Linked DNA regions of Homo sapiens: all the other regions are reported to be linked to region 1. The links are microRNA targets in miRTarBase. Many come from high-throughput screens and were not tested one by one. Region 1 holds a microRNA gene; each other region holds the end of a gene's coding sequence.

Region 1 (4,064 bases):
AATCAATTCCTAAAGGCCCTACCTTTTTTTTTTTTTTTTTTTTTGAGACGGAGTCTCACTCTGTCGCCAGGCTGGAGTGCAGTGACGTGATCTCAGCTCACTGCAACCTCCGCGTCCCGGGTTCAAGTGATCCTCCTGCCTCAGCCTCCCGAGTAGCTGAGACTACAGGTGTGTGGCACCATGCCCAGCTATTTTTTTTTTGAGATGGAGTTTTGCTCTTGGTGCCCAGGCTGGAGTGCAATGGCGTGATCTCAGCTCACCACAACCTCCGTCTCCTGGGTTCAAGCGATCCTCCTGCCTCAGCCTCCTGAGTAGCTGGGATTATAGGCATGTGCCACCATGCCCGGCTAATTTTGCATTTTTAGTAGAGACGGGGTTTCTCCATGTTGGTTAGGCTGGTCCCGAACTCCCGACCTCAGGTGATCCACCCGCCTCGGCCTCCCAAGTAGCTGGGATTACAGGTATGAGCCACTGCGCCTGGTAATTTTTTGTATTTTTAGTAGAGACGGGGTTTCACCATGTTGGCCAGGATGGTCTCGATCTCTTGACCTTGTGATTCGCCCACCTTGGCCTCCCAAAGTGCTGGGATTACACGTGTGAGCCACTGCACCCAGCCCCGACCTCTTAATACTATCATACTGGCCACACCTGAATTTTGGAGGGGACACAATCAAACCATAGCACCACCTTTACTGACTTGTGTCTAACTTAAATTCTTCTTGTACATTGTAAAGTACTTAATAATCCAATTGGCGTGAGTTACTTTATTCTTATTTCACCACATCCATTATACTTGGGAGGCTAGGTGACTGCTTAGCCCAGTGAAATACACACTGTCAGAACTCTTTATTCCTCATCTAATGATAATATTCTGATTGGGCTTGGTTTCCTCCCAGGGTGGACAGTGTTTCCCAGTTATGTTAGTCCCCATTTCAGGCCCCTGCTGGTGACTGAACAAGACCATTGGCTGATTTGCTCTCAAGTCAACCACTGGTGATTCCTGTAAAAGTACATGGCAACAATGGAAATACCATTGCTGTCTCAGAGGAAGGGATGGACTTGTGCCTGTGGGTCTTCCTATGACCCTACTGTTCAGCCATGTGTTCTCACTGGGCCCAAATGTCAATTGCCTTTGTGGGAACCAAACCCCAGACCTCACAAATGGACAATTAATGGAGCTCAGTCAATTAAGTAACTGGGCCTTTTTGCTGGTCCTGGCCATGCTTTCAGCCATTCAAAGAACATCATTAAATTTAAAATAACATAGCAATTCTTAGTATTAAAGTCTACAACCTTGAGAGATATCAGAGCATGGGTTGAAAATAGCATGCAACAAGACCTCGCTCTCCCTTCTCTTCCCCCTCAATCTACAATAAGGTTTTCTGGAGCCACCCATAATTCAAGGTGGTGGCAGGGACCTCATTACTCTCATTTCCTGCCACAAAAATCCCCCATGGTGAGAGACAGGACATTGTACAGTCTTCTCCACTCAGGCAACAGATTTCTTCCGCTTCTTCCAATCCAGCTCCTATGACAATTGGCTGGGGTGGCTGAGGCTGTGGGGCTGGAGTCAAATCCAAAATGAAAGACCAGCACCAATTCCTCCTACCACCCAAGCCCAGGTCCTGAGGATGCAGCTTCATACACCACGGCTTGTGTGAAGACTCTGGGGACTTTTGACATAGTTGTTCGGTGGCAGGCAGGCTAAGCAATCCTCTGTGTATATTTGATAGCACCCTCTTTCCCATCACAGCGCATGTAACACAAAACACTCACATGCAAGCTCCTCTCACAGGCATGCCAATTCAGGCACACTAGCTGTGAGGCCACTCCTCTCTTTCCCACTCAAAAAAAACCCATAGTGGATTAGCCGGGCATGGTGGTGCATGCCTGTGGTCCCAGCTACTCGGGAGGCTGAGGCAGGAGGATTAGTTGAACCCAGGAGGTGGAGGCTACAGTGAGCTGAAATTGATTGCATCACTGTACTCCAGCCTGGGCGACAGAGTGAGAGCCTGTCTCAAAAAAAAAACAAAGCACAGTAGGATGCAAGGGAGTAAGTGGTGAGTGATTTATGATAGGGATAATCCTGAATCCACTGGAATTCCCTGCTCCTCTCCTCTCCTCCCCTCCCCTCCCTTCCTCCATTCCTTCCTTCCTTCCTTCCACTGGAATTCCCTCCCTCCCTCCTCCCTTCCTTCCTTCCTTTTTATTTCTTTCTCTCTTTCTCTCTTTATTTACTTTCTTTTTCTTTCCTTTCCTTTCTCTCTCTCTTTTTTTTTTTTTGTGAGACAGGGTGTTGCTCTGTCACCCAGCCTGCAGTAGTGCAGTGGCTCGATCAGGGTTCACCGCAGCCTCAACTTCCCAGGCTCAAGTAATCTTCCCACTTTAGGCCACCCACCGACCAAGTAGCTGAGACTACAGGTGTGCGCCACAGCACCAGTTAATTTTTTCTTTTTTGAGATGGAGTTTTGCTCTGGTTGCCCAGGCTGGAGTGCAAAGGCGAGATCTCAGCTCACTGCAACCTCTGCCTCCTGGGTTCAAGCGATTCTCCTGCCTCAGCCTCCTGAGTAGCTGGGATTACAGGCATGCGCCACCATGCCTGGCTAATTTTGTCTTTTTACTAGAGACGGGGTTTCTCCATGTTGGTCAGGCTGGTCTCGAACTCTTGATCTGAGGTGATCCACCTGCCTTGGCCCCCGAAAGTGTTGGAATTACAGGCGTTAGCCACCGCGCCCGGCCACTAGTTAATTTTTTTTAAATTTCAGTAGAGATGAGGTCTCACTATGTTGTTCAGCCTCGAATTTTGTTTCTCAAAGTGAAACACAATTATGAGTAATAAAGGACCCAGAATCCCTTCACAGCCATAACAGCATGCTTGACAACTGCTGCTGCCTAGCTTGGGGGTTTCCAGCCTTGAGGTTGAGCCTACCCTAGGCTTAGCAGGAGGCCAGAGCTGAGCTGAGAACAGAGCCCAGGATGATTATCACTCCTAATCCATGAGGTACCAAGATGTGGTTCTGTGTGACACCTTGAGATGGCTGAGTACTCTCAGTCCCTATTTATTCTTAGCAAAGCAAACCACAAGCCTGCAAGCTGCTTGATGACTTAGGGCATCAGTGTTCAGAAGGTCTCTATGGGGACTGATGTCCTGAGGTGACTAGACGCTTCCAGACATCAGTGCCCGTGGCACCCAGATGACACTTCTCGCGAGGCTCCCGTTTTTCTGCAGACTAGGCTGTCTCTTCATAACAGAGCCTAGTTTCCATCAAAATGCCCTGACTTCTCGAGAGGACAAGTGCTAATCTTTTTTATTTTTTCCATGCCCACGGCCGGTCAGAGAAGACCTATCTCTACCTACCATGCTCCAGATAGCCTTACCCTTGAGCCAGATTTGTCTAAGATGGTGATGGTGATAACAAACACATCTCGGGTGTACTGATGGACAGGAAGTCAGGAGAGACAATGACTTGCTGCCCTGCTATGCTAATTTGTTGGCCAATTCATAGGAGGTGGCAGCTGAAGTTGTAATGATAACTTAGAGGGCAGTGGCAGCAGGAAAGTTTTCTAAAAATGGCTTTTATTACAAGGCTTTCCTGAGTTTGGCTATACCCAGGCATTATGTCATTAGGAAAAACTGATGACACTCAATAGAGAAAAAGAAATCTGTTCCTAAAGCGGAGGCTTTCTGAAAGCTATTAGCTGTCTCCTTGAAATCACAACATTGAAGATTTCACAGCAACAGCAACACATTGTAAGGAAGCATTAGGAGATGTTTGCATCTCTGCCTTCTTTATTACTCATTTCTCTAGTAGGAGAAAGTGGGGGAGGAGAGGAAAGATGGCAAGGTTTTTTATTATTATTATTCATTCACACTTAATAAAGCAAAGCATAACGCTGATTTTTTTTTTTTTTTTTTTTTTTTTGAGATGGAGTCTCACTCTGTCGCCCAGGCTGGAGTGCAATGGCGTAATCTTGGCTCACTGCAACCTCTGCCTTAGCCTCCAGAGTAGCTGGGATTATAGGCGCACACCACCACGCCTGGCTAATTTTTGTATTTTTTAGTA
Region 2 (4,064 bases), not on the chromosome of region 1:
GATTACAGACGCGTGCCACCATGCCCAGCTAATTTTTTGTCTTTTTAGTAGAGATGGGGTTTCACCATGTTGGTCAGGCGGGTCTTGAACTCCTGACCTCAAATGATCCTCCCGCCTCGGCCTCCCAAAGTGCTGGGATTATAGGCATGAGCCTCCTCACCTGGCCGCCCATCTACTTTTTAAAAAAATTTATTGTAGAGATAGGGCCTTGCTATGTTGCCCAGGCTGGTCTTGAACTCCTGGCCTCAAGCGATCCTCCCGCCGTAGCTTCCTTTAGTGCCAGGATTACAGGCATAAGCCCCTGCGCCTGGCCTGCCACAGATTTTTATCATTGGTAGGATCATCATTCCCATTTTACAGGTGAGCAAACTGAGGCTTGGAGTGGCAAAGGCACACAACCAAGGTCCCACAGCAGGATAAAGAGCAGAACTAGGCTTAGAAGCCAGGTTTCTGTGATGCCACAGCTGAGACTCTGCCCTCAGGGGTCTTACGAGTGTCCCCACCTTAACATTCATCCAGGTTTCGAGTTCTTTGAAGCCAGTGCCAAGGAGAACATCAATGTGAAGCAGGTCTTCGAGCGCCTGGTGGATGTCATCTGCGAGAAGATGAACGAGTCCCTGGAACCCAGCTCCAGCTCAGGCAGCAACGGGAAAGGCCCGGCCGTGGGGGATGCTCCAGCCCCCCAGCCCAGCAGCTGCAGCTGCTAGAGATGGCCCCCAACCCCCCACCCACCCCTCTCCTGCCTCGGCAGGGACTGTGATCGAGGCGTGAGCCACAGTGGTTATCTCCAAGCTCAGGGCAATCCCTTCCCTCCTGTCAACTGCTCCCCGACTCCTGCATGGCTCATTCCTTCACAATGTCGCCGTGGCTGCCAGGTTCCTCAGGCAGCCCCGGTGGGAGGCTGCGGACCATGGGGACTCAGCTCTGCATGGCAGGCAGAGGCCCAGGGACACTGACGTGCATGAGCTTGCTGCTTTCCAGGGTGTGTTGAGGGTGGCCATGGGTGACACGTCCCACTCTTTCTGATGGAGGGGCATCCGTGGTGCCTTCTAGCTTAGAACCATTTTCCAGGTCTCTTCTGGGTTGGGCAGGACTGATATTCCCAAGCTGGTGGAAGATGGTTCATCTTCCTCGCACAGTGTGGGTTCTTGGAGTTCATCCAGGGAAGGCGGCGCCTCTTTCTCAGGTCCTGCAGGCTGGTCTCTGAGCCTGCCCCCACGAACTTTCTGGATTCCAAGGTGGGATGGTGATCCCTTTGACCCCTGCAGACCCTCTACTTGCGAAAAGCAGCATTGAAGCAGCCTTTTCCCATTGTAGAAGGGACAGGGAGTCAGATCCCCTCAACCCCCCGGCTTCAGGGACCCCAGAAGTGCCTTCCAAGCTTCCCCCAAGATCCACATCACCCACGACCCTGCCACTGTTTTTGCTGTGTTCACCACATCTCTGATCCTGAAGTGAATTCTGGAACTATGGACCACATTAGACTGGGCAGAGATTCGCCCAACCCCTAGCACTCCGGCTCTGGGCTTTCGGCCAGAAGTTAATTAACCTCAGAGCCAGGAGCCTGGGGCTGGGGCCTCCCTCCCAGGCCCTGTTTAGCTGTTTAGCTGGTTGTGTTTTAAGCAAGTTCTTGCCCAATCATGCATCCTGCTAGAAAAGGAAATGAAGCAACGTTCCCAGCCACCGCAGGCAGTTGTCGGCGACTTTCTGATGTAAGCACCTGGGCTCCGACTTGAGGGGGGCCCTTCAAGACCCAATGTCCATTTCCCAATCCTTGTCATCGGCAGGGCCCAGGGATGTGACAATTTTTGCTAATGGAGGAGTCACTTCTTTTTTTTTTTTTTTCTTTTTGAGATGGTCTGGCTCTGTCACCCAGGCTGGAGTGCAGTGGTGCAATCATAGCTCACCACAGCCTCAAACTAGGGGTCACTTCTAAGGGATGCTGGGGGTTGGGCGGAAGGGGTGAGGAGGTAGGATTGAGTAACTTGCTGTCACTGCTTGTACTTTGTAGACAGCCTGAGAGTGGCAGGACCTTATGTGAATGGGGGGGATGGACTGTGATCAGTGCCGGGGAGTCTCTGAAGCTGGGGTCCCCACCTCCAGGGGCTTCTGCTCAGAGGTTACGTGTGCAGTTTGAAGATGTACATCTTGACCTCCGGTTTAGAGGCACTTTCTGCCCATCAGATTCCAAACTCTAGGGGCGCAGCACCTTTTCTTTGCTCCCAAACACCAACCAACACCCCTTCACAGGACCAGCACTGTTAGGATGGCTAAGTGGATGTTTTATGTTCCCACGTCCCTGACTCTGTTTCAGAGGTTGTGTCTGCTCTCCCAGCCCCTGAAGCCAAAATGACTTCCTGCAGCTTTCATGAGCTCAGCCTCTTCCCTGGGGTATGTGTGAGGGGGAAAGCCTGGTTCAAGTTTAGATTTATTTCTAGGGAGCCCTGGTTTCTTCATACCAGAGGCTACCCTTAGAACTTTGGAGTGGGGTATCTTTTTTTCATTTGTTTTTTTGATACAGAGTCTCGCTCTATTGCCCAGGCTGGAGTGCGGTGGCACAATCTCAGCTTACTGCAACCTCCACCTCCAGGGTTCAAGCGATTCTCCTGCCTCAGCCTCCCGAGTAGCTGGCATTACAGGCACCTGCCACCACACCCGGCTAAATTTTGTATTTTTAGTAGAGAAGGGGTTTCACCATGTTGGTGAGGCTTGTCTCAAACTGACTTCAAGTGATCCACTTGCTTCGGCCTCCCAAAGTGCTGGGATTACAGGCGTGAGCCATCACGCCCAGCCGAGGGTATCTTTTATACCAACAAATTAGATGACTGAGGTGTAATGGACAAATCCTATGCACAAAGTGAGGGTATCTGAATATGTGGGCGGGAGTCAAAAATTTTTAGCTACTTTAACACTAAAGTCAAACTAAAGTAGCTTCAAAAAGACTTCTCAAGATGCAGTATGGCCTGCTGAGGTTTTTTTGTTTTTTTTTTTTTTAAGACAGAGAGTCGCTCGTCGCCCAGGCCGCAGTGCAGTAGCATGATCTCAGCTCACTGCAACCTCCACCTCCCGGGTTCAAGCGATTCTCCTGTCTCAGCCTCCTAAGTAGCTGGGACTACAGGCACCTGCCACCACGCCCATCTAAGTTTTGCATTTTTAGTAGCGACGGTTTCACCTTGTTGGCCAGGCTGGTTTTGTTGGCCAATTGTCTCTAAACTGCTGTCAAAAAAAGGAATGGATCAGATTGTCTTGAATAGGGCAGAGCTAACCTGTAATCACCTGTGTGATGAGAAACAGCTTTGACTGCATTTTACTCCTGACCTGGCCTAAGCTTTCTGTTTACATAAGATTTTTCAAGAATTCAACTTCAAGTAGCAGCCGAGAGAGCTGCCTCAGGATTCTCTCAAAAACTGGGAATAATATGGGAACATTTGTTTCTTCTAAAAATAAGGCAAATGTTACATTGAATGATTTGGGGGGTGAGGTTTAATTGGAAATGGTCTCTGGGGACTGAAAACTGATGTTTTTGCAGATTACCTCAGGGAAACGGAGGTTTGTTGAGTTTACAGACACATTAAACCAAAGGCCGTGGGAAAACCCCTCTCCAGCTCCAGGGGATTGGTCAGGACCACCCACTAACCAGTGCCTTCCTTCTTAACATTCACTTTTAGCAGCTTGTGTTTATTTTACATGGGCAGTTTTGATGGGAAATTGCCATGACCACAGGGGTTTGGAGTTCTGCTTTTTTTTTTTCTTCTTCTTTTTCGGGGGACTGGGGGACTCCTCCCAAGATCACATTTTAGCATCTTTCTCTCCTACTCCATTTAGAAAAATAAGTAACAGGTGAAATGTGGTCTCAGTGTTAACGGGATAATTCTGCTACCGGCTCCTCCCTGATGATTCTGAAATACACTACTGAACGAGCTCTGGCTGGTCCTTTCTATCCTGGATGTGGTTCTTCTGTGTAGCAATTCCTTGATGTCCAGTTTGGAAAGATGTACTCTTCTCAACAAGAAAAACTTAAATCCGTCGTGCCCAAATATAGTTGTGCTTTTATTTCCATTAGT
Region 3 (4,064 bases), not on the chromosome of region 1:
CAGTGTCCATTCAAAATTAAACCATGTTAACAGTATCAGACAAGGGAGATTTTAGAGAAAGAATATTACCAGAGATTAACAGGATCATAATGATAAAGTGGTCAACACATCAAGTGGACATAAAATAGGAAATATTTATTATTCACCTAATAAAAACATACTAAAATATGTGAAGCAAAATCTGACAGAACTGCAGAGAAGTAAATCCAATTTAATATTCAGAGATGTCAACAATCCTCTTAAAATAATTGCTGGAACCAAAACCACAGAATGTCAATAAAGATAGAAAAAACTTAAATAACATCAACCATTTTTACCTAATCAACACTTGTAGAACCCCTTCATCAAACGAGAGTACAGTATACATTTCAAGTGAACATGTAACTCATACCAAGATAGCCCATATTCTGGGCCACAAAGCAAATCTCAATAAATGTAAATAATTCAAGTCTTAATGTACTCTGACCACAATGGAATTATTGCAGAAACTACCAGAAAGATAAGCAAAATCCCCAAATATTTAGGAATTAAATAACATACATTTAAAAAGAGCCATGTGTCAAGAAGAATTTTTTTAACTGGAAAACATCCTAAACTCAACTAAAATGAAACCACATCGGCTGGGCTCACGCCTGTAATCCCAGCACTTTGGGAGGCTGAGGCAGGCGGATCACAAGATCAGGAGATCGAGACCATCCTGGCTAACACGGTGAAACCTCGTCTCTACTAAAAATACAAAAAATTAGCCAGGCATGGTGGCAGGCGCCTGTAGTCCAAGCTACTCGGGAGGCTGAGGCAGGAGAATGGTGTGAACCCAGGAGGCAGAGCTTGCAGTGAGCCGAGATCGCGCCACTGCACTCCAACCTGGATGACAGAGCAAGACACTGTCTCAAAAAAAAAAATGAAACCACATCAAGCTTGATGGGAGGTAATTAAAGCAGTTCTCAGATAGATTTTTAACATTAACATCTCTTCCCCATATTAGGGGAAAAAAACCCAAAGGTTTGAAATGAAGGACCTCAGCTTCCATGTTAAAAAGTAGCAAAAGAAATGAAATCCAATAAAAGCGGAAGGCATTAGTAAAACTCAAAATGGAAAAGAAAAATCCCAAAATATCAGAAAACAGAAAATTCAATAATACCAAGTACTTTAAGATCAATAAAATTGTAAAATTGATAAATCTCTACCCAAACCAATCAAGGTTAAAAGAAAAATATAGACATTACCAGTATCAGGAATAGAAGAGGTTGCACCACTACAAATTCTACAAGTATGAAAATAATATTTTGAAAAATTTGAGTACTTAAATAAAACAGAAAAACTCCTTGAAAGACACAAACCATCAAAGCTCACTCTAGAGATAGATGGATGGATGGAGTGACAAACAGATGGACGGACAGACAGATGTATATATAACTAGTATAGCCCTCCATCTACCATGGAAATCAAACTTGTAGTTAGATGCTGTCCTACAAAACACACTTCAGGGCCAGAGTGACAGACAGACAACACACACACAGACAGATGTACATATAACTTGTACAGCCCTCTATCTACCACAGAAATCAAACTTATAGTTAGAAACTTTCCTACAAAACAAACTCCAGGCCCAGACAGCTTCCTTGGTGAATTCTACCAAACATTTAAGGAAGAAATAATACCAATTATTCACAAACTCTTCCAGAGAGCTGAAGAGCAGGAATACTTCCCAACTTACTCTATAAAGCTGGCATTATGCTGATACCAAAGCCAAACCTGGGCAAGATATAAAATTACAAAGAAAAAAAAGCAAGCAAGCAAGAAAGAAAGTTAGGGACAAATATCACTCGTGAACATTGGTGCAAAACTTGTTACAAAAAAACAAAACAAAACAAAACAAAATAGCAAATCAAATTCAACAATATACTAAATGACTAATACATCATGACCAAATGGGAATTATTACAGAAATGCAAGGTTGGCTTAACATTTAAAAAAATCAGTCAATGTAATTCATATTAAACAACTAAAACAGAAAAAGAAAAAAACCATATAGGATTATGGTCACCAGAGTCCAAGAAAACGCCCCACAAATCCCTATTTTCACCTTTGTGTAGTTCTCTTCCACTTTTAACCAGGATTAGCTAGGGTTACTTATGAAATATAGCAGAAATGACGGCTCATCACTTTCAGTTTAAGGTAATGACAGATACTGTGGCTTTGTTCTTGTGTGAGTTCTCTCCTGGATCACTTGCTTTGAAACTATTTCTCTACAATGGAACACTCTTAGCAAAGTACAAATGAAAAGAAATGAACTATGAAACACAGAACACCACCATGAGCCTTAATTTCAGAGTTTAAGAAGCCAAAAACATTAGAATACATATTAAATTACTCTATCTCTGTAGAATTCTAGGAAATACAAACAAATCTACAGTGACAACGGATCAATAGTTGCCTGGGGATGGGTGAAGGAAAGGGAGAAAATATAAAAGGAATCAGGAAACTTTTGGTTTGAGAAGTGCCAACATGTATCAAAACTTATCAAATGGTACACTATAAATATGTGCAGTTTATTGCAAAAATGTTTAGACTGACTTCTGGACAGTAACCTTAGCCATAAGAGACACAGGTATGGAAATATTTCTGTAAACCCTCATAATGGAGCCAGAGTAATGGAAACACATGTGGATGTACCTTTAGAAGGGTCATATTCCCTATAGTTTGCTGCAGTTTTCTCATTCCTTTATTAATCTGGGTTTCTGCACCAACTATGATTCCTACCTGGGCCTTCTGGAGGACAGCCAATATCAACTGCCTACTGAAAAATAGACTTCAGAGATCTTGACATGTCCACTGAGTTCAAATTCTCCTCAAGAAGCCTTGGGAATATGAAGTATCTTCTGGGAACAAGGGACGTAATTCATGTTGCTCCCAGACACATTAGAGATTATCACAACAAATGCCCACTGCTTAGGGTGACCTCAATTACACAAAAAATCTTAACATATAGACCAAAAGATTAGGCCTACAAAGACTGGCATTCTTTCCTAGGAGAGCTGAAGCAGTCAAGTAAGTTAGCTTGACACTAGCATAAGAGCTAGTCTTTGCCATCCTACTATCACTTCAGAGATACAGATAGTTGGAGCTCTCACAAAAGCTGTTCTTCCCTTCATACTGGCTTAGCTCAATTCTGTTCTCAACCCAACCCACAAAGCGAACAGAATCCTCAAGATTTCAGATAGTCTAAAAATTAAGGCATTTGTTGCAAAACCAGAATATGAGGCAGCCAATTTCAGGTCAGGTGTCTTGAAGGCTAGAAAAATTCGTCCCAAGTGCCATGTGAGATCAACTATATCCATGAAGGGAAACCTCTGCCAGTGGTCAGCAGAACAAAGCTCCCATTTTTCTGGCTAAAACTGGGTCATGCTCATGCTTAAACCAGTAGTGGGGCAGAAAAAAAGTGAGAATCCTTGATGGCCTCAGGCTACTGATGATTCCCTCCAGGGAAGGGAATAGTACAGAGGTCTGTCTTTTGAAACACATTGGGGTTACTTTGGCACAAGGCAGGACTCTTCCAGCACAAAGACAGATGGCTTCTAACAGGCACTGCCTTGACGAAATTCCAGCAAGAGTCTAGAAAATTCAGCATAGCTCCAGAAGGCTTCCCATATAGCTGGCACTCGGAAGAACCTCCCCAGGGTGAGTGTTTGAGTGTATAAAGTTCTACTTCTGGCTGTCGGCTACACATAAAGGCTATGCTTGGAGCTTCTCTCTGATGTCAGTTATTATGTTGAACAAGGAAACGGAATTATCTCCCATCCTAAGGCCTTTCTCCAGTGTGAATTTTCCAGTGGCGGATGAGGGAAGCCCTCTGCCTGAAGGCCTTCCCACATTCACTGCACTTATATGGCCTTTCTCCAGTGTGAATTCTATGATGCTGAACAAGTACATGTTTGTGGCTAAAGGCTTTTCCACATTCACTGCACACATAAGGCTTTTCACCATTATGAACTCTTTGATGTGCAATAAGGTCAGAGCTTTGGCTAAAGAACTTCCCACATGCGATGCACTCATAAGGCCTT
Region 4 (4,064 bases), not on the chromosome of region 1:
AAACTAAGTTGCCCGAGGTCATAGAACATTGAAGTGGCTGAGGCAGGATTCAGATATTAATCTGATTTTAGAGCACGTGTTCTTTTTTCTATATCATGTTCCCATGTCATTTGAGATTCTAAGTGTTTAAAACCTGGTTCTCGCATTTGATTCATGTTATAAATCAAGAACTTAAGTCTCCAAATAAGTTAAATTTGTAGGTTTAAATTGCCCTGAATCTAGCTGCATCTCATCTTTTTCTCTATATACAGATTGGAAGTAAAGGAAGATCAGAGAAAATAAGAACATATAATTTTCCACAGAACCGGGTCACAGATCACAGAATAAACAAGACGCTGCATGATCTTGAAACTTTTATGCAAGGAGATTATCTACTGGATGAACTTGTACAGTCATTGAAGGAATACGCCGATTATGAATCTTTAGTAGAAATTATTTCCCAAAAAGTTTAAGTTGATTTGTTATTTATAGACTTTCGTAGCTTAGAAAAATTCTACAGTACATCCACATAGGGTGAAAGTACCCTTACTCTCTTGAAAAACGTTGAGTTAACACAGTTGGAGGTAATATGCATATTCTGAAGTCATAGATAATTTACACAGATCTCTCTCAATGCATTAGCAAAAATCATACAATATACAGATGGTCCTCGATTTACATTGTGGTTAATTCCCAATAAACCCATCATAAGTTAAAAATGCATATAACGTTAGCAACACAGCAGTCTCCTAATTAATGACAGCTTGACTTAACAATTTTCCAACTTTACCATGGTGTGAAAGAGGTATGATTCCTAAGCCCTAAGGAGCTCCTCAGCTTGAAATGGGGCTGCATCCCTATAAACCCATCATAAAGTCAAAAAATCCTAAAACATAAGTTGGTGACCATCTGTAATCATGATGTGGTGGTAAATCTTGGACGCTACCTTACAATAACTAGACAAAGGAAAATCATCCTTTGTCCTGTTCTGTGTAAATATTTAATGAATGATCAAAACTTCAGTTTAAATATTATGAAAAACTTTAAACATAAAGTAGTAGAAATAAGACAGTAAATACTGTATCCTAATATCCAGTCAGGATACAGAAACCATACCATTAACTTGAACAGGGATAATTTTAATATAAAAACTGTTAACTGATAATGGTATTAACTTTTAAGAGGGATGAAAGAGAGCTATGATGTCCTAGGACTGAGAGTACCCCAGGAAAGAATACCCTTGAAAGGGTCTCCCCTTCCCCATGGTGAAGTCAGGCCTAATGGAGAGAGTGGCTACAGCCTACTCAGTGATTGGGAAATTCCCTGTCTTGCCCTGGGCCAGAGCTGGTGTACCGCTGGTGGATCAGGTCTTACAAGCAAAGAACCTCACACTCCCAACTGGTAAGCCAGAAGCCTCTTGCTAGGGTGTGAGCAAAACTTGGACAGGAACTCTCAGTAGATGTTTGTGTTTGTCAAGATTCTCCAGACAAACTTCCTTAAAAGGATTGGCTTGTGTTGTTATTATTAAGTCTAACAAGTCCAAAAGCTGGAGTGTGAGGCAGGAGGCTGGAAACCCAGGAAAGCTGATGGTGCAAGGTCCAGTCCAAAGGTATCTGTTGGAGGATTCTCTTGTTCTGGGAAGAGGACGGTCTTTTTTTCTCTTCAGACCTTCACCTGACTGGATCAAGCCCACTAACATCGAGGAGGACAGTCTGCATTACTCAGAGTTCACTGATTGATTTAAATGTCAATCTCATATAAAACACCCTCACAGAAACACCTAGAATAATGTTTGACCTTATAATTGGAAAATCAGAGCAAAAGTTAAATCTCAAAAAAAAAAAAAAAAAAAGTATGACCCAGTAGCTAGGCACCTGTGGCCCCGCCAAGTTGACACATAAAATTAACTGTCACAGTATCATCTTAGAAGTGAAAGAAGCCCCTTTATCCTGCAGTGCCCCTCTACCACCACCTACTGACAAAGAACATGGTGCTATCTGGCATGGGAGAAATGTTCAGTTTGCTATGGCTTGTATGTGTCCCCTCAAATTCAAGTGTTGCCAATGTGACAGCATCAAGAGGTGGGGTCTTTAAGAGATCACTAGGCCATGAGGGATTCTCTTAGGACTGGGATGAAGGCCCATAATAAAAGAGGTTTCGGGGAGCATCCTGCTAGCTTGCCTTCTGTATGTGAGAACACAGCAAGAAAGCCCTAGTCAACAAGTGCCAGCTCCTTGATCTTAGACTTCCCATCCTCCAGAACTGTGAGAAATACATTTCTGTTCCTTACAAATTACCCAGTCTCCTGTATTCTGTTATAGCAGCACAAAATGAAGATACCATACCTGAACACCTGAACATTCTTCACAAGGTAGTAAATGCACTGCTTTATTCTGGTCTCAGTATTGTGTGCTTAATAAGGAAATGAGAAAGGGTGGATCAGGGCATAGGATGAACAAGTTACTGCTAGACCTCTCACAATGCCACTAATGGATAAGATTGTATTTTCATCATTCTTGTCTCTTCGGAAGCTAACACCATGCTATAATAGGCACTAAATAGATGTCTAAAAACACCTTAAGTATTTGTCTAGAAATCTGGTGCATTGTTCAGAAAGAACCAAAATTCAAAATAATTTCAAAGGGCCTAAAGCACTAGTTAATCAAAATTCATTAGTTTTTAATGGTACTACCACTCTCAAATTTAAAATGTCATCTTACGTTCCTCTTCCTCGCATTGGATTTATTGCTAAAACCTGGTAAACACTTTTAATCCTTTTCAATTCCATTACCACTGCTCTTGTCCAGAATTACTTCGCAGACTAATAGTCACCTGACTTCTCCCCTGCATCCGATTTGCTGTCTAATTCTGGTTACAAATAAGTAACTGCCAAACTAATCTTTCTAAAAAGCAAGACTGATCTCGTCACTCCTTTGCTCAACAATGTAAAAGCTCCCATTGTCTCCCAAATAAAACCAGCTTTCCACTGTGTATACAATACATCCATGATCTGTATCCAGCATCATTTTGTATTAGCTCACTTTATACACCACCCCCCATGCCACATCAAATTAAATTATCCTGATAAATGCAACTGCATTTACCCTTTCCCTTATTTTGTTCTTTATGTTGTAGGCCTCCTTTGTGCCCATTTCTTCAGAAGACATCCCCTACAGCCATGGTTCTCATCCAGAGGGTCTTTTGCCCCCGCAGGAGACATCTGACAACGTTTAGAGACAGTTACCACAACTGGAAGATGGAATAAAAGAGATGCTGCTAAACATCCTACAACAATTATCTGGCCAAAAATGTGCTGAGGTTAAGAAACCCTGTCCTACAGATTATTCCCTTATCCTGGTACATAGAAGTAACTCCTTTTTTTCTATGAAAATTTCCACAATTTTTTTTTTTCTTTTTGACATGGAGTTTCACTCTTGCTGGCCAGGCTGGAGTGCAATGGCGTGATCTCGGCTCACTGCAACCTCCGCCTCCTAGGTTCAAATGATTCTCCTGCCTCAGCCTCCCAAGTAGCTGGGATTACAGGCACCCGCCCCCATGCCTGGCCAATTTTTTGTATTTTTAGTAGAGATGGGGTTTCACAATGTTGGCCAGGCTGGTCTTGAACTTCTGACCTCAGGTGATCTGCCCACCTAGGCCTTCCAAGTGCTGGGATTACAGGTGTGAGCCACCAGTCCCGGCCAAAATTTCCACAAATTTAAATGTATTTGACTCATCCAGTGTTCCACATAGCTTTATTTTATACACCTTACCCCCACAGATATGCCTGATTGGTATTCAGAAATTATTTACTGAACACCTATTATGGCTATTATGTGGCAAGCCCACAGATAATAAGCACAAGGGCAGGTGTCATGTCCCATTTATTTCCATATATCCCATTGTTTTGCATGTGATAGGTCTGCGATAAGAATTTTACGAAAGAATGAGGGCAGTTCTCTCTGCACTTCATGTTCCACCTAAACACCCAACAACTGATTGATGCTGATTTGAAAAATGAGGTGTATACATCTATTGGCTTCTAGTAAAATTCAGAATGTCCCCTTGCCCTTTATTTTTTGGTCGCC
Region 5 (4,064 bases), not on the chromosome of region 1:
TGAGTAAACTCAGTGGTTTTCTGTCCTAAGCATGCTTGCCTGCTACATCCCATGGAGAAAATAAACAGTGAAACACTTTCCTCATCTTCAAGGCAATTGTCTCAGGCATCCTCCAGGCATCATGAAGGAGGGTGAGCGAGGGTGCGAGGTGGAAAGGTCCAGGCCGCGGCTGTGACTCCCGCGGGTGAACCACAGCTCCACAGCCCCAAATCCAAAGATGCTCTTGCTGCAGCACGACAAGTGTTCAAAAGAGAACCAGGCCCAGCCCGGAGAAAGGAAAGCCAAAAGCCAACTGAATGAATGACCCTCCCCCAGAAGAGCAACCCTGCCCCCAGGCCATCCAAGTGCGGTGAGTTGAGAAATGAATTGACAGACGCTGCAGGGCTGGAGCAGGAGGCGGAAGCAGGTTGGAAGGCTGTTGTGTGCCACCCCTCCCTGGGAGCTGGGGAGATTCCCAAGTCTTAGTGCAGTGTTTCTCTACAAACGGGGTCAGGAGACCCTCACTGGCAGGCTGACAACTTGGAAGCAGACTGTGGGAGCAATAGGCTGGAGTTTTCATTTTCCCTTTAAACTCAAGACCGGAAGGTTTGTGTTATGCGATACCATATGCTGTGTAGAAAACAGGGCCTCAGCTTCTTAGATGTTGTAGTTCTAGAGTTTAGGTACTTCCACCCTCTCTCCTATACATAAACACTCTGTGGAAGAGGTTCTTTGAAAATTGGGGTGGTGCAGGAAGGGCAACGGTGATGGTGAGCAGGCCCCAGGGTCGGCCCTGCCGCCCTGCCGTGTGGGGTAGGGAGACAGCTGGTGGTGTGGACACATTCACAGAACTTTGTACTGGTCCTGGGAAGATACAAGTCCTCACTTGGTCGCCATCCCTCATATTTTCTAGTGTTTTCTTTTCCAGTCAACTTTTCTTGATGAATGACTGCATGTAAGAGGATATTAAGAAAAGTGGCCAAATGATTTCCTTTTTTTTTCCTTTCTCTCCAAGAACATTACCAGGTGCCAGCAGGGAAAGGACTCCGCTGCCTGACGCCTCTCCCACCTGAGAGCGCAGAGGTAGGGAGATCACAGTGCCTGAGAGGTTTTCCTCCACGGAGAAATCAGAGACCTCAACCTGCTGCCCTCTAAAGCAGCTTTCTGTATCCAGACAAAACTTACATATGTACACGTTGTTTTAAAACGACATACTCATGTGACACACATGTATATAAATTCATGTTTATATATGACAATTGAGGAGAGTTAAAGAACAAGATAATTCTGGATGGAAAAATCAGTTTGCCTGGGCATCTGTAAACCTTTGGGCAAGTGAATTCCCTCTTCTCTCTCAGTTCACCCTTTGGTGACCTCCACCGTGGCTGCAGACTTCAGGTGGTCCTCACGCATTCACAGAACTGTCTGCTTAGGTTACAGCACTTTGGGAGGCCGAGGTGGGTAGATCACGAGGTCAGGAGATCGAGACCATATTGACCAACATGGTAAAACCCCATCTCTACTAAAATACAAAAATTAGCCGGGCGTGGTGGCGGGTGCCTGTAGTCCCAGCTACTTGGGAGGCTGAGGCAGGGGAATCACTTGAACCTGGGAGGCGGAGGTTGCAGTGAACTGAGATTGCGCCACTGCACTCCAGCCTGGGTGACAGAGACTTCCTCTCAAAATAAAAATAAAAATAATAAAATAATAAATGGTTCTTTTCTATGCGTCTAATGAATTTAAGTGCTTGTTAAGACTAAAAACCATGTTATGCATTTCCTGCTCTTAAAACTAAATTATGTAGAAAGTAAGCTAGGGAGTGTAAGGGTAGGCATCTGGATATAAATGCTTCTCCCAAATCAAGATTTTCTCTTCAATCTGTGCCTTTGACCCTGTCACCAAAGGCAGGTGACAGAAAAAAAAAATTATGTGCCTTTTGGAAGACTCAGTGGGACGGTTCTGATTTCATTCACTTCTGGTGCCAGCAGGCCCCCATACCATGTGGCCATTGCTGTTTCGTGTCTCTTCCTGCATAAATAATGCAGAGAGGCCATGCAGGTATGCAATTTTCTGGAGATGAGGCAGGGAGATTTGCAAGGAAAAGTCACCTACCTCCCCAAGCTGGTGCCCACAGAGGGGGAGGCACCTCCACCTGACGCAGGTGTCTGAGCAGCAGTCCAGAGAGGTTTACTCAGGGGATTTGGGGAGCGCACACTCTGGAGCAGAAGTACAGGTATGTGCCCGAATCCTGCCTCGTGATGGGCATTCATGATACGAACCACACAGCCTTTAAAGAAAAGGTTTTATATGAAAGGTTCCATTTTGTTTCTGTATAAAGGCTTTTATCCTGTAAGGAAAAAAAAAAAACACAAAACCCTAGACATAATAAATGCCTGTTTTCTACAAAAACAATGTCTAACTCTGGGTGGACTGATCTCTTCTCAACAGCCCAGGGCAGGGCTGGTCCCTCATTCACCTGTGTCCACAGGGCCGAAGACACTGCACACACTAGGACAGGATTTGATTGAATTTAAATCCTGCCACCCACCAAGGAGACCTCGGGATATTTAATGTTTGAGGGCCACACTAAACGATCACTGCAGAGAACCACCTCTTTTCTTTACTGTAGTTTAAGTATGATAAGTGGGCTTTGCTATTACTTATTGGAAAAACCAGTAAGAAAAGCTAATTTTCAGGCTTCAATGTGATTTGACATGCAAACGGGAAGTTTTGCCAGGGGTTAATAAAGGTTGTGAATTCCAAATTCCTAGCCGAATATGGCTTTGCTGGTAAGCCCCCTGGAAGGGAGGTTGGGAGGGCTGACCAGATGGTCATCGGGGCACTGGGATGGAGGCACGCTGGGGCCTGACTGCCTGCTCTGCTGGAGACTGCAGAATGGATGGCAGATCCACAGTGCATCCCCCTTCCAAACCCAGGAGGCATCTGTCGCCTTCTCTTTGGTAGACAGTCTGGAGACAGCAGAAACCCTCTGCTCTATTTTTTTGCCACTCTAAATATAGCAGAAAACAAAATAAAATAAATAAGATAATCTTTGCTGCCTCCAGGTGCCCTCTGAGGGACAGACAGCTGCTCCAGAGTTGTTCATGAGGACAAAAAGCCCAGGCAGCCTGGAGACCCAGCTGCTCTGGGTGAGCCTTAGCTCACTTCCTGTGGTTCCTGGGACTTACCAGGCCCACCCCCATGCGCATTTCTCCAGGCAGGTTCTGAGGACTCTTTGGACAATTTCTCTTTCTTCTCAACCCTTCAATCTCCTAATCCACCCCCCTACCCCCAATATTTTCATAGAAACTAAGGGAATTTTGGAGGTGAAAGAAGTCATCTAGTTTCCAGTGTCCACCCTCCCCATTCTACAGATGGGGAAACCAAGGCACAGAGAGGGCAGTGCCTTGCCCAAGGTCATTCGGTGAGTCAGTGGTGGAGCAGGCCTGAGGCCCAGGTCCCCCAGTTCCCACCCCGTTCTGCAGCCCACCCCTCAGTCGGCCTTGGGCAGGGACTTCCTGTGCGAGGGGGGCACGAGGTGGGGGGGCAGGCTGCTGGGCAGCTCGTAGCCGTCGAGCTTGATCTTGATGAGGTGCTTGGCCAGCGCGAACTCCTCCTCATCAAGCATGCCGTCGCAGTCGCAGTCGGCCAGCTTCCAGATCTTGCCCAGGACGCTGTTGGGCAGCTTGGAGGTCACCATCTCCTTCTTGGCGTTGACACCTGATATCTTGCCATTGATGGGCGACAGAGTGTAGAAGAGCTCGTCGTAGACGGGCTTGTCTTTGGCCACGACCCACTCCTCCTCGTCGGCGCCCTCCTTGGCACCCTCCCCGTAGCCCTGGTTGAAGGGGCCCTCGGTGGTGCCATCGAAGGCGCCGCCCTGCACCAGCTGCGTGGGCGTGCTCGTCTCCTCCTGGCTGATGAGGTTCATGAGGGGCGAGATCTTGTTGCTCAGCATGTTGTCCACTGCCTCGATCAGCTTGGGCTTCAGCGAGTGGAATTTGGTGAAGTCATAGTTCTCAAGCTGTTCCTGCAGAAGGACAAACCACAGGATGGGTTACATGTGGTCTCTTCAGGGGGAAACA
Region 6 (4,060 bases), not on the chromosome of region 1:
AGTGATTTCAGTCAGGGTTTAGGGAAGCCAGGCTTCTCTCTGGCTTGGATGCTGTCAGAGGTGGGGGTATGTCTATGACGGACTATCTTAATGAGTCTTGCCCAGAAGGAGAGAAGATTAGTTGGAGGCTAATGCTGTAATTGGTAAGGAAACAACAGTCACTCTCTTATGGGAGAAAGAGGGATGTTTCATGCCTTTTGTGGTTTGGACAGTGTTCACCTTTGCCAGCATTCAGATGTGACGATGGAGTGGTTCTGTTTCTGTCTTGCTCCCTCACGGTCACAGAGTGACCTTGTCCGATGCTGATGTTCTCTGAAATTGTTTATATTCAACAGAATACCAAGGCCAGCTCCCAGATGTGCAGGGATGTATAAATTAAACGCAATTTAAATCTAAATTTCCAGTTTTGTGTTTGTTTTATGTGAGAACTTGAAAAAATATATCTAAGTTGGGTGTCTGAACAAATAAACATTAGAGAAGAGCTGAGAAACCAAAGAGAGAAAATTGTGAAATCTAAAAGACTGAAAAGTGTTGATAAATTTGACTACAAAAAATTAGTCTTTGTCCTGGGTGCAGTGGCTCACGCCTGTAATTCCAGCGTGATTTGGGAGGCCAAGGTGGGCAGATCACTTGAGTCCAGGAGTTCAAGACCAGCCTGGGCAACATGGCAAAACTCCACCTCTACCAAAAATACAAAAATTAGCTGCGTGGTGGCGCAGGCCTGTGGTTCCAGCTACACAGGAAGCTGAGGATGGGGGATGGATTAAGCCTGGGAGGTCGAGGCTGCAGTGAGCCAATCAAACCACTGCACTCCAGCCTAGGCGAGTGAGACCTTGTCTAAAAGACCAAACAACCACAAAAATAAGTCCTTGTCCAGCAAAAATCACCTTTACACAGGTTTGCAAGACAGACCACAGATAAAACATTTTCAATGCATTTAAGAAAAGGGTTGATGTCCCTAATAAACTAAAAATGAATAACCTACCTACTAATCAATATAAAAAGAGTACTTTTCAGAATCGTTTTAGATTTTTACAACGACATGTGCCATTAAAAACAATAAAAGAAAAAAACCCGGCTGGGGGCGGTGTCTCACGCCTGTAATCCAAGTACTTCAGAAGGCCGAGGCTGGAGGATCGCCTGAGGTCAGGAGTTCGAGACCAGCCTGGCCAACATGGCGAAACCCAGTCTCTACTAAAAATACAAAAATTAGGTGGGCATGGTGGTGTGCGCCTGTAATCCCAGCTACTCCGGAGGCTGAGGCAGGAGAATCGCTTGAACCCGGGAGGCGGAGGTTGCAGTGAGCTGAGACCGTGCCTGGCACTCCAGCCTGGGCGACAAAACGAGACTCTGTCAAAAAAAAATAATAATAAATAAGAAAAAGAAAGAAAGAGGGAAGGACGGGAAGGAAGGGAAGGGAAGGGGGGAAGGAAGGGAGGCAGGGAGGAGGGGGAGGGGGGAGGGGGAAGGAGGGGGGAGGGGGAAGGAGAGGGGGAGAGGGGAGGGAGGAAAGAGGGGAGGGGGGAAGGAAGGAAGGAAAAAAACAAAACACAACTGGAAAACCCTAGGACTTGAACCCAGGGAAAGCGTTAGGGGGTAAGGGGACTACACTTCCCGTGAAGCTCCGCGGCGGCTTCCCGTGAGGCCCCGCGGAGGCTTCCTGAGAGGTCCTGCGCGCTTTCCGCGCCAGCTTCAGTGTCAGCTCGCGAGCCCTGGCGTCGCGTAGGAGGGAGGATGGAGAGCGGCGACGAAGCGGCCATCGAGAGGCACCGCGTCCACTTGCGCTCCGCCACATTGCGCGACGCCGTACCCGCCACACTGCATCTGCTGCCCTGCGAGGTTGCGGTGGACGGGCCCGCCCCGGTGGGGCGCTTCTTCACGCCCGCCATCCGCCAGGGCCCCGAGGGTGAGCCCTGCGGCCGGACTACGGCTCCCGGCAGCCCCCGCGCCGGCCTGCGCGCTTCTCATCGCCTGGGCTCCTGGGGATCGTGGTCCGTCCGGAGGTGGCGGGAGGGCAGCTCCGGGCTCGACCCAGCGTGGGTCCTGCCTGAGGCCCTTTGCGCCTCCCGCTCCAGGACTCGAAGTGTCGTTTCGGGGCCGCTGTCTACGGGGAGAGGAGGTGGCGGTGCCGCCTGGCCTCGTGGGATACGTGATGGTGACAGAAGAGAAGAAGGTGTCGATGGGGAAGCCAGACCCCTTGCGGGATTCCGGGACTGACGACCAAGAGGAGGAGCCGCTGGAGCGGGACTTCGTGAGCAAAGGGATAGGGTTGAAAGGGGGTGCGGGCGGGAGCTGTAGTCCCGATGCTGAGCCAGGCCCCTTCCCCAGGACCGCTTCATTGGAGCCACTGCCAACTTCAGCCGCTTCACCCTGTGGGGTCTGGAGACCATCCCTGGCCCGGATGCCAAAGTGCGTGGGGCCTTAACTTGGCCCAGCCTTGCGGCAGCGGTGAGTAGACGAGGAGTTCCGTCTTGCCCCCGGGTGGATGGGCTGGGGAGCACAATTGCGCAGACGGAGCCTGGAGGATTCTACTGGGTAGTGTGTGGGAAGCGTAGCTCCCTGACCACTCTTCCTAGCATGTCTAGAAGCGGTTATTCTGAACAGCTGGGTCCTTCCTCGGGTATGGGGGCCAGCTTGCCGCCCTGTCTTACAAGTCCAACAGTAGAGGCGACTCCTGTTGCAGATTCACGCACAGGTGCCCGAGGACTGAGAACCAGAGCTTGAAATTCAAAGCTGCGATCCCTTCACAGCAGTAAACCAGCTCTTTGGAACCGATTCCATCACCCCAATAAAGGAGCTCTTCACAGCACCTGTGAGTCTGGGCGCCTTAGAGCCCCTAAGCCAGCATGGGCCCTTTCCCCCTCCCCACCAAGAACTTTGCATGGCTCTGGCATATAGAAACAATTTATTGCCGGGGGCAATAGGGGTAAGAGAAGCCAGAAATTTTTGCAGCCAGCACCCACCCCACCCCCAACTTCTACTTTACAAAAGAAATTTTTACAATCACCAGCCCTCTGTACAGAGCTCCCCCATCCGGATCCCTTCTCACTGTACACAGCTGCCTGGCTCCCTCTGGTCCCTGCTTCAGAGGAGGCCTGGGCCTGTGGCCAGCTGACCTTGGAGTTGGTCTGAGCCCGGAGCTCGCCTTGGTGCTGGGCACCAGTGGGCCCCTGCCAGGCCTGTCCTCTCCTTTTTGAGCTGTCCTCAGCCCCATCTCCCTTAGAGTGCTTTGTGGGAGCTGCAGTGGGGGCGGGGTGGGCTATCAGCCCCAGTCCTGCTGCCGTCTTGGCACTGCAGTGGGCAGTGTCTGGTCACCACTTCCCCCTCTTGCTCCAGTCCTTGGGAGTGAAGTGCAGACACTTGGAGTCGATCCGCAGGAGCCGCTTGAGCATGGCCCGCTCATGGCCATCCACGATGTCCTCTGACAGTGTGAGGATGTACTGGCCCTGGGCAGAGGAGATGGGTTCAGCAGGTGGTCAGCCCACAGAGGACTGCACTCTGCATCCCACACACCTGTCTCCCCTGCCTGCCTCCCTACCTTGTAGTAGTTGATGAGATTGAGGTACTGCAGAGTGGAGATGACATCCTCCTTCTTGATGCTGGTGATTTCACTAATCTCACTGTGGGAGAGCACAGGTCAGGTTCCCTGAGGACCTTTATCTGTCCCCAGGAGCCCTGAGAGAGAAAGCCCAGGAACAGACAAGCCATGCCATGTACCCCCAGGTAGACAGCGCCAGGCTCACTTGATGGTGATCTGTGGCCTCTCCCCGCTCTCCGACTTCAGCCCCATCAGGATCTCCAGGATGGTCTGGGACCAGTAGCTTCGATAGGATAGGAGGCCAAGGTCTGAGAGGGGCTTCTCAGGGGTCCCTGTTTTCCCTTCCACTTTGGAGAGTTCATAGCCTAAAGCAATGGAGCAGGAGAGGGTGAGTAAGAGGTCACAGATGAACATAAGCAACATTTAAAAACACAGGTTGCCAAGGCAGGCTGCCTAGTTCCTATCATGGCCCTGCCACTTGGCAGTTCTATGCCCTCCACTTCTCTGTGCCTCAGTTCCCTC
Region 7 (4,063 bases), not on the chromosome of region 1:
CTGCATGTCCCTGGCCCCCCACAGACCTGCAGGCCCCCTACACTGCCCCTTCTTTCCATCTCTGCCCCCTGCATCTGTAGACAAATGCTTAAGTCAGCACCGACTCAGCCAGGATGGCAGTTACCCAAGGCCACGCCGCGCCACTGCTTCTCTCCCTCTCGTCTGCTGTGTCTCCCTCCCTCCCGTGCATCTGTGAGTTCTTCCCAGTTCTGCCCACATTCAGTCTCCCTGTTTGCACTTGTCTGTGGCCAGTCTCCTGGAAGAGCTACAGGGAACTCATCCTGCCCCCGCTCTTTCCCCTCATCCTGTCTTCATCCTTCCCATGCCACGAACCCCTTGCTCTGTGGGAACGCCGGCGGCTCACCCGCGCACCCCACCTCCTTCCCCTCATCCTGTCTTCATCCTTCCCACGCCACAAACCCCTTGCTCTGTGGGAATGCGGCCGCTCACCCGCGCACCCCTAACGCAGTGCCTTCTGCTTGCTCCATGGCCCGTGCCTGTCCACCTCCACCTGGCCCCGTCGCCAGGCCTGCCACACCTTCTCGGTCTGCTCTTGGTTGTGGCACCCACCTTCAGCCACCTGCTCTTCTTCTCCCAGGCCTCTGCTCTCCAGCCAGCAGCTCCTCGGGCCCCGACTGTTTCGCAGGCCTAATTCCGAGTATGAGAGTCTCCCTGCCCCACCCGGCCCTTCTCAGCTACCGCCTTGCCTCCTTCCGCTGTCATCCAGCTATTAGGGAGCTGGCCACACTAGACAACAGGCCCTGGTCACCCCTGCTTCCCAGAGCAGGAAGGGGCAAGTGGCATTCACACACGGAGCCACCCACGAACAGCTTCCTGGTCAAGCGTGATGCCGGGACTGGCCCGCCACCAGGCGCATGTGGACCTGCTCTGAGCTCCTGCTCTTCCTTCCTCCTCACTGTGACCCCCTCCAAGCATCACCCCTGCTCCACAGACAAGGAGGGCCAGGCACAGGAAGTCAGGGACTCACCCGGCGCAGCTGGGCTTTGAGCCCGGCTCTCTGCACCCACTCCTTGCTCCTGGAGTGCTGGGGACTCAGGAGGGTGAGAGGCAGCGGCGGCCCCAGGGATTGTGTCCTGCAGGCAGAGATCTGTGGGAGACCACAGAGGAGGGAGCTCCAGTGTGCACATCCTGCGGGCCAGCCTCCTACTCAGGAAGCAGCAGTGGCACCCAAGGCCTCAGGCGTGTACTTGAGTCTGACAGAGGCGGGAAGCCTGGGCCAGGTCCTGGGGGACTGAAGGGGAAGGAAGCCCTTGGAGGCCCAGCCACAGGAGCAGGTTCCTGCTTGGACTTGGTCAGGGAGCCCAGGAGAATTCCCAGCGGCCTGGGTGGCCTGGGCTTTGGGGACAGCAGCCCCACAGGGGCTCATGCTTTGGGGCCCACCACGCACCAGCTGTGAGCACTGAGGCCCTTTCTGCATAATGGCACCCTTTCTCCCAGATGGGAGAGCAACAGTTCCTCTCCAGGCTGAGGAGACTCGGAACACGCACTGAGGGCCCGACAAATGTCGTCTGTCACTAGGTGGCCTCACTGGACACAGTGGTGAGCGTGCTGCGCTCGTGGGACCTGAGCCTCACGGAGGCCATGCTCCAGAACATGGAGGCTGAGCAGCAGCGCCGGGCCCAGGAGGCCCAGAGGCACAAGGAGGCCGAGGCTGAGCGGTGTGGAAGGCAGGAGGGGTGTGGGAGGTGCTGGCGAGGGGTGCTGGCAAGGGGCGCTGGCAGGGAGCCCGGGCAGGGGGTGCTGGTGGGGGCGCTGGCGGAAGCCTCTGTCCCAGCTCATTCCTGCTCCTTAGTATGACCCTCAAGGTCCAACAGCTGACCAGGGAGCAGCAGCAGTGTCACAAGGAGGTGAGTGTGACCTCAGGGAGGAGCCAGGAAAGGAGGAGGGAGAGCCGGGTGGGGAGGAGGGGGAGCCGAGGGAGGGCCAGGAAGCTGGGGGAAGAGCCAGGAGGGGAGGTGTCCTCAGGCCCCTGGGCCAGGAGTGACCTGGTCGGAGGATACTGGCCAGCCTTGCCAGGGCCTGCCCGTACGCCCACCCAGCTGCAACAGGCCTACTGTGAGCTTAGCCGGAGGATCTCAGAGCACGACCAGTGTGAGTGGAGGTGCATGGACAAGACCAAGCTCACGCTGCAGGTGGGGGCCCGTGGTGGACTTGATATGCCCCTGCGTCCTCAACACCCCTCCTTGTTCCAAACCAGCCCAGAGCTCCCCGCTCCCAGGCCTGGGGTTTTTCCCTCTCAAACATGGGGAGTCACCAGCCGACAGTGGCCTGCTTGGGGTGGGGTGGGGAGGAAGCTCGGGCAGCTGCCCTCTCCAGCCAGAGCATGGGGCAGGGCAAGCAAGTCAGTGTGGCCTCCTCCTCCAGGCCATCAAGGACACAGAGGCCCAGGTGGACAGGCTGCGGCAGGAGGCCCAGAAGGCCGAGGAGGCGCTGGCTATGGCCAGGCTGGAGCTTCGGGAGCAGACGCAGGAGGGTGGGCCTGGCATGGGGCGCCGGCTGGGGGCTGGGACATACAGCCCAGGGCGGGGTCCGGCGTCGGGCTTGCCTGTCAGCTGCACTCTGCTACCCCGACAGGGGAGGAAGAGGCGCCTGGGCTGAAGTGCCAGGTCACCGAGCTGCACGATGTGCTGATGAAAGATGTAGGCAACCGCATCCGTGCCGATGGCCGGTCAGTTCTCCGGGCCAGACGTGGGCGATTTGGGGTTTGGACAGACAGCAGTGACCTGATGGGTGTCCCCAGGTGGCCTCTTGTTATTGACCCTTTGGGCCAGGCGGCCACCTTCCTGCGCTACCAGGATACCAACTATGTGGACACGGTGAACCCGGAGCCCCTGAGGCCGGAGACGATGTGGCTGGCTCTGCTGGGGGCTCTGCGGTGAGGCAGGCAGGGTGACAGGTACACCCCACCCCACCTCCCTAGCCCCACCCTGGCCTCACCAGCCTCATGGGGCAGGTATGGGAAGCCGCTGGTGTTCGACCTGCGAGAGGAAGACCTGTTCCCAGTCGTGCAGCGGCAGCTGGAGGCGGTGCAGGAGAGGTACCTGTCGCTGCTGCGGCCCACGGACGGGCCTGAGTATAGCCCCACGCAGTTCCAGGAGCAGCGGCTGGAGCACTTCCGCCTCTTTTTCGTCACCAAGGTCCAGTGGCCGCCAGCTGAGCAGCTGCAGGTGCTGCTCCCAGTGCGCGTGCAGCTGCCAGGCACAGGCCTCTAGTGCTGGCCCCAGTCCCAATAAAACGTGTGCCCCGGGGCGCGGTGCTGCATCTGTGCTGCGTGCGTGGGGGCAGCGGTGGCGTGTGCCAGTCCAGGACTCCGGCAGTCCCGGGCCCCGGCCGGCGGACATGGGTCTGCAGGCACTTGGGGGAGGCCCTGCTGGGGATGGGCAGCCTGCCCGGCCGACCCGTGCGCAGTGAGGCGCAGCGGGAGACGTGGGAGGGACGGTGAGGGTGCAGCCCTCGGAGCTCAGCCTCGCCTCGGAGGGCAGGAAGGGTCTGTGCTAGTGGGTGGGGGATGGACAGGCAGACGGGAGGTAAAATGTAGTCAACTTTATTCTCCTTAAACCACAAAATAGAGTCTTTGGTTGTACAAACATCACTAGTTACAGTCTCGCCGAGGTCTCGGCTGGGGTGGGGCAGTTAGTTAGTCACAGGCCAGAACTCCTGTGGGGTCTCTTTAAAATGCTAACACCCAGGTTAAAAGACTTGGGGCAAGGGTGGTGCTGGAGCTGGCAGGGCCCCCACCCCAAGTCTGGGGGAGGTGCCTGCTCCTCTAGGAGGGCACAGGGCCCAGGCCACGGCGCCCAGGCCTTACGGGGCGGCGGCTGCTGCACAGTGCCACATCTTCAGGGCCCACAGCGCCGGGTGAGGGCCTGCCCAGAAGCACCAGAGCCACTTCTCCATCCTCCTCCTGCGGGCCTGGAGGGCAGGGACAGGTGGGCAGTGAGCTGAGGGCAGCTGGGCTCCTGGGAGCTCACCCCAGCCCGGCCCCAACTCACCAGGGCTGGGAGATGGTTCCAGGGACCTCAACTCCTCAGCAAAGTCCGGT

The links. Region 1 holds the annotated microRNA hsa-miR-766-3p (ACUCCAGCCCCACAGCCUCAGC, at 1,550-1,571, opposite strand). A microRNA usually pairs through its seed, bases 2 to 8, with sites in the 3' UTR of a target mRNA and lowers its output. Matches are read on the target gene's strand: a 7mer-m8 pairs with bases 2 to 8, a 7mer-A1 pairs with bases 2 to 7 and ends in A, and an 8mer does both.
Region 2: the mRNA of RAB3D is a reported target of hsa-miR-766-3p. Seed matches in the 3' UTR shown: 7mer-m8 at 1,877-1,883 and 7mer-m8 at 2,542-2,548.
Region 3: miRTarBase lists ZNF772 as a target of hsa-miR-766-3p. The part of its 3' UTR that is shown has no 7-base or 8-base seed match.
Region 4: miRTarBase lists MTRF1L as a target of hsa-miR-766-3p. Seed matches in the 3' UTR shown: 7mer-m8 at 1,525-1,531.
Region 5: the mRNA of EHD4 is a reported target of hsa-miR-766-3p. Seed matches in the 3' UTR shown: 7mer-A1 at 3,190-3,196 and 7mer-m8 at 1,631-1,637.
Region 6: miRTarBase lists KAT5 as a target of hsa-miR-766-3p. The part of its 3' UTR that is shown has no 7-base or 8-base seed match.
Region 7: the mRNA of SCRIB is a reported target of hsa-miR-766-3p. The part of its 3' UTR that is shown has no 7-base or 8-base seed match.

What each region holds. Positions count from the first base shown.
Region 1 is chrX:119,645,214-119,649,277 of GRCh38, forward strand. It overlaps MIR766 (microRNA 766), which reads right to left and starts at 1,635; the gene lies at 1,525-1,635. All of the region lies in intron 5 of SEPTIN6 (septin 6), which reads right to left. RefSeq lists an enhancer at 2,689-2,868.
Region 2 is chr19:11,322,041-11,326,104 of GRCh38, reverse strand. RAB3D (RAB3D, member RAS oncogene family) reads left to right here. Exons shown (of 5, transcript NM_004283.4): 5 at 520-4,037. The coding sequence ends at 707. It also overlaps a transcript of TSPAN16 not described here. Among named protein-coding and RNA genes, the nearest start is that of TSPAN16-AS1, 2.7 kb to the right of the region's middle. RefSeq lists an enhancer at 1,648-1,857.
Region 3 is chr19:57,469,472-57,473,535 of GRCh38, forward strand. ZNF772 (zinc finger protein 772) reads right to left here. Exons shown (of 4, transcript NM_001144068.2): 4 at 115-4,064. The coding sequence ends at 3,803. Among named protein-coding and RNA genes, the nearest start is that of ZNF772, 6.1 kb to the right of the region's middle.
Region 4 is chr6:152,986,283-152,990,346 of GRCh38, reverse strand. It overlaps MTRF1L (mitochondrial translation release factor 1 like), which reads left to right. Exons shown (of 7, transcript NM_019041.7): 7 at 252-2,985. The coding sequence ends at 452. Among named protein-coding and RNA genes, the nearest start is that of FBXO5, 5.3 kb to the right of the region's middle.
Region 5 is chr15:41,897,173-41,901,236 of GRCh38, forward strand. It overlaps EHD4 (EH domain containing 4), which reads right to left. Exons shown (of 6, transcript NM_139265.4): 6 at 1-4,009. The coding sequence ends at 3,473. It overlaps LOC105370792 (a long non-coding RNA gene), which reads left to right. Exons shown (of 4, transcript NR_135681.1): 3 at 1-349; 4 at 995-1,643. Among named protein-coding and RNA genes, the nearest start is that of SPTBN5, 5.2 kb to the left of the region's middle.
Region 6 is chr11:65,718,433-65,722,492 of GRCh38, reverse strand. KAT5 (lysine acetyltransferase 5) reads right to left here. Exons shown (of 13, transcript NM_182710.3): 11 at 3,744-3,903; 12 at 3,539-3,620; 13 at 2,889-3,446. The coding sequence ends at 3,312. RNASEH2C (ribonuclease H2 subunit C) reads left to right here and starts at 1,695. Exons shown (of 4, transcript NM_032193.4): 1 at 1,695-1,906; 2 at 2,076-2,251; 3 at 2,329-2,448; 4 at 2,684-4,060. The coding sequence starts at 1,735. The coding sequence ends at 2,710. RefSeq lists an enhancer at 1,550-1,619 and a silencer at 1,770-2,009.
Region 7 is chr8:143,787,376-143,791,438 of GRCh38, forward strand. SCRIB (scribble planar cell polarity protein) reads right to left here. Exons shown (of 37, transcript NM_182706.5): 36 at 4,014-4,063; 37 at 3,550-3,933. The coding sequence ends at 3,788. IQANK1 (IQ motif and ankyrin repeat containing 1) reads left to right here. Exons shown (of 14, transcript NM_001381874.1): 8 at 1,540-1,688; 9 at 1,814-1,868; 10 at 2,061-2,153; 11 at 2,386-2,494; 12 at 2,596-2,689; 13 at 2,762-2,896; 14 at 2,975-3,270. The coding sequence ends at 3,233. Among named protein-coding and RNA genes, the nearest start is that of MIR937, 24 kb to the right of the region's middle.